2 linked regions of the Homo sapiens genome follow. The protein of the gene in region 1 purifies or fractionates together with the protein of each later gene. This does not show direct contact. Each region holds a gene or a part of one and is shown on either strand. Other genes may lie near its edges.

Region 1 (8,018 bases):
AGAATGGTTTATCTCCTTGAATTCCTTCCATTAGAATTTTCTTTCTTTCTTTTTTCTTTCTTTCCTTTTTTCTGAAACAGGGTCTCACTCTGTCACCCAGGCTGGTGTGCAGTGGCACCATCACAGCTCACACTGCAGTCTTGTCCTCCTGGGCTCAAGTGATCCCCCTGCCTCAGCCTCCCAAGTAGCTGGGAATACAGGCATGCACCTCCATGCCTGGCTAATTTTTGTATTTTTTGTAGAGATGAGTCTTGAGATGGGGTCTCACTATGTTGCGCAGGCTGGTCTCAAACTCCTGGTGTCAAGTAATCCTTCTGCCTTGGCCTCCCATCGTGTTGGGATTACAGGCATGAACCACCACATCTGGCCCCATTAGAACTTTCTAACAAAAGATGATCTTTCTCCTGCCCCCTAGAGGGCTGTTTATCCCTTCTGTCAGTCCTTCCTTTCTCATTATATCCTCTCCACTCTCTGCCCTCTGCCTAGGCCCAGCCTTATCCATCTGAGAGAGGAAGTAACCAGTAATTTGAGCATGCACAGAAGGCTCTGATTTGGGACCTCATGTCAGCAGTGTCTTTGGATTTTTGTTTCTGCTTTGTTGAGGGCTGAACAGGAAGATAGGCCCATGGGTTACCAGTGAGATAGAAAAAGGGGAGGAAAATACAGAGAAACAATCGGATTCACATTTTGGGATACAAATCCACCACAAATGCAAGTTTATAATACCTATGTGGGCTAAAAGTTTGTTCTCTCTCCTCCAGTCCTTTATCTTTCCTCAAAATGTGAACTTGGTATTTCTCCCTCATCAGTATCAGTTTCAACTCTCCTAAACAAATCTTCTAATTGTACCCCAATACTTTCATTGACCAAGTCTTCTCTTAATCACCACATACACACTGTAGTAGCGGCATCTTTTTCCAGCTATTCTTTTCTCTCCCTTTCATTTACCCTAGTTGATTCTAACCAGCCATCCCCAAGTGTATTAGGTACATTTTCAGTTTGCTCGCGAATTCTCATTTACTCACAATATGGCTTCTGTCTGCTTCCCTTTACCAAGACAAGTCTTGTTTTGGTCCAATTAATGAGCTTTTAAAAAATCCATGTAGCTTGATACCATTGCTCACTCCTTCTGTGAACAATTAGGTTCTGTTATTAATTAGGTTTGTACATATCACCATTTTTCTAGCATTTTAAACTTTCTGGTTCTGACTGTAATAATATCTTTGATAATTTTCCTTTTTTTTTTTTTTTGCTTTATTTACTCCTTTTAACCATCACAACAGTGGTCCTATACTTTTCTTTCTTTCCTGAAGATGATTTTAAAATTCCATTCCATTTTTGTAAATCTGTAATGTTGAGTCTCTTTTGGATGCTCTGAAACAGGTTGCTTGGATTGTGGAATATTTTGAAAGACTGCTTATGAGGCAATAGCAGCAGGGTGCAATTCAGACTTCTCACACTTCTTTAAATACCAGTTCTTTCAGGAGTTTTTTTTTTTTTTTGAGACAGAGTCTCACTCTGTTGTCCAGGCTGGAGTGCAGTGGTGAGATCTTGGCTCACTGCAACCACCACCTCCCGGGTTCAAGAGATTCTCCTCCATCAGCCTCCTAAGTAGCCGGGATTACAGGTGGCTACTACCACCCTAGGCTAATTTTTTGTATTTTTAGTAGAGATGGGGTTTCACCATGTTGGCCAGGCTGGTCTCAAACTCTCAACCTCAGGTGATCTGGCCACCTCAGTCTCCCAAAGTCCTGGGATTACAGGCCTGGTCTCAGGTTTTTAATGTAACCCAAAGATAAGAAATAGATTCAATGTCGTTAGGGACACTGACCTTTCTTCCCAGATTCAACCCATTTATTTTCTATTTTTACTCTGTACTTGAGTTTTGTTTGTCATTGTAATTTGTAAACTCACTGGGTAGGAAATAATTGTTGATCTTCTAATTTAGAATAGCCCCAAGCACATGGTTATCATGGTAACATGCTTTAAATGTCCTTGGTTATAAAATGAACAATGTTAAACATCACTTGAATTTTTCACTTTTATTTTTCTTCATTCTTTGCTTGCAGGTTTTATATTCTATACTCTCAATAGGTGGTTCTCATACAAGAATGGGGTCAGTTCTATTAGAGTTACAAACATTGGAAGAAAATACATTATTTTGGTACCAAAATCTAAATACTTCCATCTCCCAATGCAGTTTAGTGGTTATTAGTGTGACTTTGAATCTTGGCCCTCTTAGTTCTTTGTTTTGTCACCACAGGCAAGTTTCTAACACAAAAATTAGGGATAGTAATAACCTAACTGTATGAGTTTTTGTGAAAAATAGAGGAAATAATTTACAGTTGAAACCTGAACAAGGTGGGGTTAGGAGCACGAGCCTTTTGCACTGTAAAAATCTGCATATAACTCTTTTCTTTTTTTTTCTTGGAGACAGAGTCTCGCTGTCACCCAGGCTGGAGTGCAGTGGCGCGATCTTGGCTCACCCCAACTTCCGCCTCCCAGGTTCAAGTGGTTCTTCTGCCTCAGCCTCCCGAATAGCTAGGACTACAGGCACGCACCACCACACCCAGCTAATTTTTTTGTATTTTTAGGAGAGATGGGGTTTTGCCATGTTGCCCAGGCTGGTCTTGAACTCCTGAACTCAGGCAATCTGCCCACCTTGGCCTCCCAAAGTGCTAGGATTACAGGTGTGAGCCACTGCATTGGGCCAAAATCTGTATTACTTGACTCCCCAGAGCTTAACTGTTAATACCAACTATTGCCTGGAAGCCTTACCAATAACATAAACAGTTAATTAATACGTATTTTGTATATGTATTATATACTGTATTCTTAAAGCAAGCTAGAGAAAATAAAACATTAAGAAAATCATAAGAGAAAATATATTTACTATTCATTAAGTTTAAGTGGATCATCATAAAGGTTTCCATCCTGTTCAGTAGGCTGAAGAGAAGGAGGAGGAAGACAAAGGGTTGATCTTGCTATCTCCAGCTTAGCAGGTGCAGAAGAAAAAATCTGCCTACAAGTGGACCTGCGAAGTTCAAACCAGTATTGTTCAAGGGTCAACTGTATCAGAAAGATTTGACTACTATGAGCTAAGTGGTAATCATCATTGGTCTGAAATGATGATTTTTAGAAAGTGACTTTATTATATCACTGATAGAGATGCCCTATACTGAAATACTGAGATTACCAATACCTTGCCTGTACCACAAATGTATTTTTGCCATTTTGCTTTCTGTTTCTATAATATTTTGAATTCCTAACATGATCCAGAAGGCTGGGAGATGCTCCTAATGAAAGAGAGAAACCTGGAATGTTCTCCTATTTACCAGATTGCTTCCTCTCATACCCAGGTTTTGAGATATAAAGTTGTTACAAAGTTCCAACTTATTTGGTATCATTCAAAATCTGATGAGCTTGCATTTTAAGAAGTGTTGATCAGTTCCATTTAAAAGCAGTTGGTATGAGTTCACTTTATTTTTTGAGGTGGAATCTCGCTCTGTTGCCCAGGCTGGAGTGCAGTGGCATGATCTTGGCTCACTGCAACCCCTGCCTCCTAGGTTCAAGCGATTCTCCTGCCTCAGCCTCCCGAGTAGCTGGGATTATAGGCGCGTGCTACCACACCCGGCTAATTTTTTTTATTTTTTTATTTTTAATAGAGACGGGGTTTCACCATATTGGCCAGGCCGGTCTCGAACTCCTGATCTCAAGTGATTCATCTGTCCTGGCCCCCCAAGGTGCTGGCATTACAGGCATGAGCCACCATGCATGGCCATGACTTCACTTCAAATGAGCACAGAAAAATCTGGGGGCCCAACAACCTTATGGTACATCTTTTGAAGCCTGGTCAGACAAGAGGGTCTTTAGGTGATGGTGAAGTGACAGTTTTGAGTTGTCTTCTTTGGTAGTAAGTGTTGGCTAATTCTAACAGCAGGAACAATTGAGGAGTCCAACAAACAATCTTGTTCACATTGCAATGATTTTGTTACAGTTGACACTAATTTAAAAATTGGCAGGCTCTAGACCAGAAAGACCTGCCCCCAAAGTACCTTTTCTGAAAAAGTTGCCCTGCCTCAGATGCTGTGTATCTGTTGAACTTTTCAGCTACTGTGGTTTCCAAGGAATGCACCTCTATCAAAAATGAGCTTAATTCCTAAGGAAGTCAATTATTATTCCTCCATTCCAGCAAAGTCAACAAATATTGACAGCCCACCTTGAATCACTGTGCTGGGCCCTGGATGTAGCAGTGTTTTAATATTTCGACTCTTGTGGGGGGGGGCTTTACAATCTAGCTGGGCAGAAGAGGAAACATGCAAATAAATTAAAATGCAGGGTCCTATGAGGGAAATGAACAGCCTTGGTGACCTAAGTTTTGATAATAACATAACTAAAAGTTCGGCTCCACAACTCAGTAGCTGTGTGCCTTGGACAGGTCATATCAGATTAGGAAAGGTGAGAATGAGTTGAGGAACGCAGCACTCTGGGATCATGGTTCCAGCTCCGGGCAGAGGGTTACATCGTGTCAAGTGTGTGAAGGCAGAATAGCCTGCAGAGACCACTGTGGCGTTGAAAAGAGGTGTCGTCGCGACCTTCGGCGCCGGAGAGGCGAAACAAGAGGGGGTCTTCGGGCCCTCAGGTATGGCTCAGCCGCCCAAGGCGAAGCGCACGTGGCAGTTGGCGGGAAATCCCTGGGGGGTGGAGCCTCGGCTCGAGGTCCGGCCGCCCCGTACCACGTCATCGAGCAGCTCCCCCTCCCCTTGCTACAAGTCGCACGCGCGGAAGTAAACACCTCTACGTCATCAGGGCGCGTCCTCGTCTTTCCCCTCCCATCTCCTCAGATCGGTGGACGTGCTCGCCTCCACTCGGGGCCAGGTCTATGTCCCGGTTTCCCGCAGTCGCGGGCAGGGCGCCAAGGCGGCAGGAGGAGGGTGAGCGGTCAAGAGACCTCCAGGAAGAGCGGCTCTCGGCTGTTTGCATCGCCGATAGAGGTGCGGTCCGCGGGACGGTACGGAAGCCAGCGGGAGTTACGGCGTGGGGGTTTTGGTGGGGGGATGAAAGTACGCCTTTGGCAGGCTGAGAAGAGTAGTGAGGAAGCCGTGGCGTTCTCCTGGCTTTCCAAGCCCGAGGCGAACTTTGCGTCCAATGAGCACTTTGCCTTAGAGGGGGGCGGTCCCAGATTCAAGTTAGGCGAAAACCTTACTGGGGGGCGAAAAAGTGAACCCCAACGCCCGAAATGCATTCTGTTCTTAAACAGGCTCATAGACCCTTTGTTCTCTACCCATTCATCCCCCCCACCCTTCGTCGGGCCGCCAGCCTGCCTTTGGGTACAGTATGAAGGGAGCCAGTTTCCAGGAGCCAGTTTCCATGGTTACCCACCACTTGGCCTTCTGGGATATCAGTCGCTCTGAACAGGGACCTAACTTGAACCATGAATCAGAAGCAAACACAGGTGGCTTCTAATCCAGCTGAGAATTTTCTGCTGTGTTCCAGTTTTTGGTCTATTGTTAAATAAAATTGAGTTTTGTGCTTCTGTGTAAGTATGCATGTGTATACGTTGCCTTGAGCTATACTTGCTTTGAAAAGTACTTTGAGTTATGCGTGAACAAATGCTCAAGTTGCTGGATTTCACCAAAAAGTTGTTCTGGGCTCATTAACCCTCACTTACAAATTGCGCTCATTAACGCTCACTTACATGAGCGATTTAACTGAGAAGTCATGGATGATCCCGTCCAGCCCTAAAATTCTATTGCCTTTCTGGTTTTAGTCATGAGAAATTGAGTCAGAGATATCTTTACAAGTCTTTTAATTGACTTGTTTTTCTGTTATTACAGAAGAGAAAGGATGCACGTCCCAGGAGGGAGGAACTACTCCAACTTTTCCTATTCAGAAACAAAGAAAAAAGATTATTCAAGCTGTGAGGGACAATTCATTCCTTATTGTTACTGGAAATACAGGAAGTGGTAAAACAACTCAACTCCCAAAATATCTATATGAAGCAGGTGATTTTTTTCTGTTGTAATAATTGGAAATATTTTAAAAATATCCTCTTTTTAAAGGCCAGTAGGACTTCTGTACTCCATGATTGCCCAGTATTTGCTTTATAGTCCCGCTTCTCTTGGCACACCCCCTTCCCCTATGTCTCCTTTGCTTCTTTATGGTCTATTTCAGGTTCAAGAATTAGTTGGGATGGCAAATTTTCCCATTTTTAATTACCATAATAATCTCAAATAGAATTACATCTAGATATTCCATTTTATAGAATAAAGTTGTCTAGCAGTAGACTATTAACCATTGGATACTGAAATAATTTTGAGGGGTAAGAGATATGTGATATCTGTTGCTGCCATTAGTACTTCTTGGTTCTTTCTCTAGAGCATTATCAGGTAAATATTTATCCCCTGACTTTGCCAGCGCAAGCCAACTAACAAATTACCTTTAAAATACGTTAAGTAAAGTTAATAGGAGGCCTTTGGTTTGGACTGATCCCCCGCACTAGACCCAACAGACCAAACCAAAATGGAGTTACTCATACTGAAGTTCCACGCCACCAAGTCTAGAAACTAAATTTTTCATCTACTGAGAAATCAGGAGAAAGAGATAATAGCCAAATCCCCAAACAGACCAGTTTTAGGAGCATCAAGAAGTTTCCTCTGCTTTAACTTTGACAAGAAAAGTAACTTTGAAATGAGCAATCTGCTTTTTGTTTTCTGTTTCTGCTTTCCTCAGCCCTTTTCTGTCTATACAATCAGCCTCCTCTGCTCAGCTCATTGGAACACTGATTCTATTTTATGAGACGATGGGTTGATGTGATTCCAGAGTTAGAATCACAAAAGCCAATTAAAAAGTTTTGGCTGGGCACAGTGGCTCACGCCTGTAATCCCAGCACTTTGGGAGCCCGAGGTGGGCGGATCATGAGGTCAGGAGATCGGGACCATCATGGCTAACACAGTGAAACCCTGTCTCTACTAAAAATAGAAAAAAAAAAAATTCGCCGGGCGTGGTGGTGGGCGCTTGTAGTCCCAGCTACTCGGGAGGCTGAGGCAGGAGAATGGCATGAATCTGGGAGGCGGAGCTTGCAGTGAGCCGAGATCGTGCCACTGTACTCCAGCCTGGGAGACAGAGTGAGACTCCGTCTCCAAAAAAAAAAAAATTTTTTAGGCCGGGCGCAGTGGCTCAAGCCTGTAATCCCAGCACTTTGGGAGGCCAGGGCAGGTGGATCATGAGGTCAGCAGTTCGAGACCAGCCTGGCCAACATGGTGAAACCCGTCTATACTAAAAATACAAAAATTAGGCGTGGTGGCGGGCGCCTATAATCCCAGCTACTTGGGAGGCTGAGGCGGGAGAATCACTTGAACCCAGGAGGCAGAGGTTGCAGTGAGCTGAGACCGTGCTGTTGCACTCCAGTCTGGGCAACAGAGTGAGACTCTGTGTCAAAAAAAATAAATAAAAATAAAATAAATTTGTTGTAATTTTGTTTTTTGACAAGTGTCATTCAGTATGACAGAACTTTCTGTCATAAGGTTTGTAAAGAGCAGTATTATATTGGATATGATTTGCCTTAAAAAATAACAAATGTATTATTCTAATGCTTCAATCTAAGGTGCCATCTATTAAGATATATCACTATTTTATGTGCAGTAATCCCTTCTTATCCTTGGGAGATGCCTTCTAAGACCACTCAATGCCTGAAACTGCCAATAATACCAAACCCTGCATATACTATGTGTTTTCCTATACATACATACATACTTTTGATAAAGTTTAGTTTATAAATTAGGCATAGTAAGAAATTAACAACAACAACAATAAAATAGAGCAGTTATGACAATATACTGTAGTAAAACTTTTGTAAATGTGGTCTCTCTCTGTCTCTCAAAGTACTGTAACATTTTTGGACCTCCACTGACTGTAGGTAACTGAAAAATTGGAAAGCAAAACCAAAGGTAAAGAGGGACTACTGTATTAGTAAGAATGGAAATGCGCCATCGATTTTAAGATGCAGCTCCATTCCC
Region 2 (4,343 bases), on another chromosome or scaffold:
CGTAGTGGGTCAAATTAGCCCTAAACTAAAGGCTGTCCCAGTCCTGTCTTATTAAGCTTAAAAGCAAGCTATAAAATGATCGGATTGTTTCCAAGTAACTTTATGTCCCCAAACAGAGTTCAAGATACTTAAAAGAACTCCAGCACCCAATATTAAAAACAGAAATTACCAGGCATGTAATGAAGGAAGTTACAATCCAATATGGGCAGGGTGGGGGTTGGGGTAGGGTGGGAATCAATCAATAGAAACAGACCAGAAATGATGCAGATGACAGAATGGGCAAGCACACTGAAAGAGCTATTATCAATACACTCCAGATGTTGAAAAAAAAAAAAATAGAGGAAGGCATGAGCATGTGAAGGAGACACATGGGAGATAAAGACCCAGACAGAAATTCTAAAGACTAAAAATATGTCGGAGGTGAAAAATACCTGGATACGATTAAAAGGAAATTAGATACTTTAGACAGAAAGATTAATAAACAATGAGGACACAGCACTGGAAAGTACCCAACATGAAACACAGAGAGAAAAAGGCTTTTTAAAAAGCTGCACAGAATCAGCACACTGGGAGAAAATTCTGAGGGGCCTAACGTACATCCAAGTCATCAGAGCCCCAGGAGAAGCATGAGAGGAGCAGAGAGAAAACCATAACAGAAGAAAAAATGCCCCCCAATTTCCAAATTCTATGAAAACCATAAACCCACAGGTAAAATAGCTGCAGCAGCAGAAACGTGAAAAAAAAACTACAGCAAGCACATCATAATCAAACTTCTTACAACCAGTGACAGAAAACCTTAAAAGCAGCCAGGAAAAAAATGACATCTTACACATGGAAGAGCAGAGATAACAGTAATCTTGCTGGAAATCACAGGTAGATACCACTTAACATCCACTAGGTTGGCAAATTTTTAAGTCTGAACTTAAGTGTTGGAGATGCTATGAAACAAAGGTAACTCACAGTGCCAAGAGAGGTATAAACTAGTACAGTCACTTCAGAACACAAATTTGGCATTATTTTATCAATATATCAAGCAATATAACTGCTAGATACAATGTTCACAGCAGCATTGTTTCAACAGCAAAAACAAATAAACAAAACTCAAATGTCCATCAAGAATGAATAAGTTGTAGTATATTTATATAATACTATATAGCAATAAAAATGAAAGAAAGTCACAGAAGTAAACATTTTGCCATTTATATAAAATTCAGAAACATACAAAATTAACATTTCACTTACAGATACATACGTATGTTGTAAAACTATAATAGACAAATGACAAACACAAAATTCCAAATAATTATTTGAGAGGGAGAGGGCCTTAGGGAACTTCTAAAATGTCGACAACATCTGTATCTTAAGCTGGCTGATGAGTACACAGATATTTACATTTATTATCCCTTTATATATACGTTTATGTATTTTTGTAGTATGAAATACTTCATTAAAAAAAGAGTGAAAATGTAAGACTTCAAAAATGAAGACTACCATTTATGTATAACAATAAAATTAGTGTAAAAAAGTATACAAAGAAAATGTTCAATTCTTTATCTTTCCGTGCTCTATATAATCAGTATTAATCTAAAGACCATAATCCTAGTATGAAAAAAATAACAAGCTTTGACACAAAATCTAAGCATCTGCTTTCCTGGCACTCTTAAGTTAGACAAGAGTAAATATGTTAGCCTCTCAATTCTGCCTCTTCATCTTTCATCTATACTTAGATTTTTCTTTATCTTTGGACTTCTTTGGACTTCTGCTTCGGTCTCTCTTTTTACTCCTTTCTCTTTCATAAAGATCTGTTTGGTATTTTGATTTATGACTATTACTATAATGGCCATCCCTCTCTCGAGATCGGCTACGACTTCGGTTCTGAGTTCGGTCTCTCTTTTCACTCTTTTGTTTCTCCCAACAGCTTTCTTCTTCTTCATAGTGACCAAACCCCATTTCTCTATAGATATCCTGTCAAAGGAAGGGGGAATTACAAGTGAATCAGTAAAATAATCATTTTGTGGGCATTTTCAATTAATAAAACTTAGAAAAGTCTACCATTAGAAGGCTGTTATAACAGCTTAAATGTGAACACTACCACTAATGTCAAGAATCTTGTAAATTACAAAGCAATAAAATAATTCAGAAAAAGGTTTAACAACGTCATTGATTTGTATCTACTATTTTGGCTGAAACGAAGGATCAGCTTCAAAAATATGGAACTGAAATAGCTCAACTGAAATCAGAACATGTCTCTAGAGCAATCTGCAAAATCAAAAATTCTGATTATGTATAGTCTTATTCCCAGCTCCCCACCCTTCACTCCCCCAAAACGTGGTCCCATTATTGATCTGCAATGAAACTACTAAAATTCCCATAAGAATCCTATAAGAAGATATCATTGAAATAACTTAGCAGGAAGAGATCTTAGACAAGTCAGTAAGTCTTAAATAAGAAAATGGAGGCTGGATGCGGTGGCTCACGTCTGTAATCCCAGCACTTTGGGAGGTTGAGGTGGATGGATCACCTGAGGTCAGGAGTTCAAGACCAGCCTGACCAACATGGAGAAACTCTACTAAAAATACAAAATTAGCCAGGTGTGGGGACGCATGCCTGTAATCCCAGCTACTCGGGAGGCTGAGGCAGGAGAATTGCTTGAACCTGGGAGGCAGAGGTTGCGGTGAGCCAAGATTGCCCCACTGCACTCCAGCCTGGGCAACAAGAGCGAAACTCCATCTCGAAAAAAGAAAATGGATAATGTATACTTGGGTCTGAGCAATTAATTTTTAAAGTGTTTTATTTTATAACAGCTCCTCTCTAGATGTTCAAATACATCTTCCATGTTTAGAAAGACAGAAGTTAGAGAGGAGAATTTTTTTTGAGACAAGGTCTTGCTGTCTCCCAGGCAGGAATGCAGTGGCACGATCATGGCTCACTGTAGCTTCAACCTCCCAGGCTCAACCGATCCTTCCCACCTCAGTCTCCTAAGTAGCTGAGACCACAGGCATGTGCCATCACACCTGGCTAATTTTTGTATTTTTTTGTAGAGACGGGGTTTCCCCATGTTGCCCAGGGTGGTCTCAAACTCCTGGGTTCAAGTGATCCCCTCCCACCTCGGCCTCCCAAAGTACTGGGATTACAGGCATGAGCCACCTCACTCAGCTGATTAGGCTTATGTCAAAATTATTATATTTCTTTAAAATGAGTTTTTAAACACTGGTAGAATCCTTTGCCCCAAAGATAATAAAATTGCTACATTTAATTCTACTCTTAGACCACAGCCAATGCTCTTTCAAGAGATACTTTGTAAAATTTAACTTTCTTAAGACTGCCCAAAGGAAAGGAAAATTCTAAGGACTAAACTCCCAAGGGTCTCAACTCTATCACCAGATACCACTGTAGCAGACATAAATGTCAAGGCTTAAAATTCAGAGTGATGAATACCCATGGTTAAGGACTGGGTTTTAAGCAAATTATTAGTTATTCCATATACTGTCTAGATACTGTACACCTTGAGTTTGACAGTGTGTGAAAACAGATGTAACAGGATTGTTATAGTAATAATCACACTGTGTAATACAGTATTATAAACTGATTTGTGATTTTCCACACAATCCCAATAGTTCTTGTCATATTATAAGAGTCCCTGAGGTAGAAAAAATGAGTAGGCATTTTGGTTTAGCCTTTTGCCATCAATTTTCTAGTAAAATATGACATTCTGAGATAAAAGAATTTTTGTGCTTCCTATAACATATACAAAATAGAAATATTCATATACTATTATATCTGTACATCTTGTACTTATTTCTGTATTGGTTGAGACAAACTTTTAAAATGCCGAGACTGCTGGCTGATGTATAAATTTATAAAATCCTCAGTATGTTATTATACAAATGGGCACTTAAGTGCTTTGAGTATTTAAAATAGAAGAGATAAAAGATTATGTAGCACTTCATTCTTTTAAAAATTTGAGGAAGCTGAATATTTGAATTGGACTGAAACTTTAAAATCACTCCTACTCGGGAGTAGTTTTCAAAGCTACACAAGCTTTGAAGTCAGGTAGATCTGGGTTCAAATAGTCTTTGACATTTAGGAGATGTGTCAAACAAGTACTCTTAAGGTTAGAATAATTAGAGAAGGTTTCATGGAGAAGTTAGGATTTCAGATGAGCCTCAAAGGGTAAGTGAGCTTGGGTCTGAATGGGCTGCAAGAAGGCTAATGAAAGTAGTGTAAGTGAAAACTGAAAAGCAAGGAAAAATGAGCCCTGTATGTATGAAGGGGAAAAGTTAAAGTGGCTGAATGAAGCCATGTAAGAGGAGATCCTCCAAGTACATGCTAACACAGTGCTA

What was found.
Region 2: the proteins of DHX40 (region 1) and PPIL4 purify together in Homo sapiens (co-immunoprecipitation; 2 studies listed by BioGRID and IntAct, with this or other methods). This does not show direct contact.

Annotation. Positions count from the first base shown.
Region 1 is NC_000017.11:59,560,790-59,568,807, forward strand, and holds the start of DHX40 (probable ATP-dependent RNA helicase DHX40), read left to right. Parts: upstream 1-4,820; 5' UTR 4,821-4,882; coding exon 4,883-4,994; intron 4,995-5,837; coding exon 5,838-6,005; intron 6,006-8,018. UniProt on the Homo sapiens protein: Probable ATP-dependent RNA helicase.
Region 2 is NC_000006.12:149,503,740-149,508,082, forward strand, and holds the end of PPIL4 (peptidyl-prolyl cis-trans isomerase-like 4), read right to left. Parts: intron 1,966-4,343; coding exon 1,714-1,965; 3' UTR 756-1,713; downstream 1-755. UniProt on the Homo sapiens protein: PPIases accelerate the folding of proteins. It catalyzes the cis-trans isomerization of proline imidic peptide bonds in oligopeptides.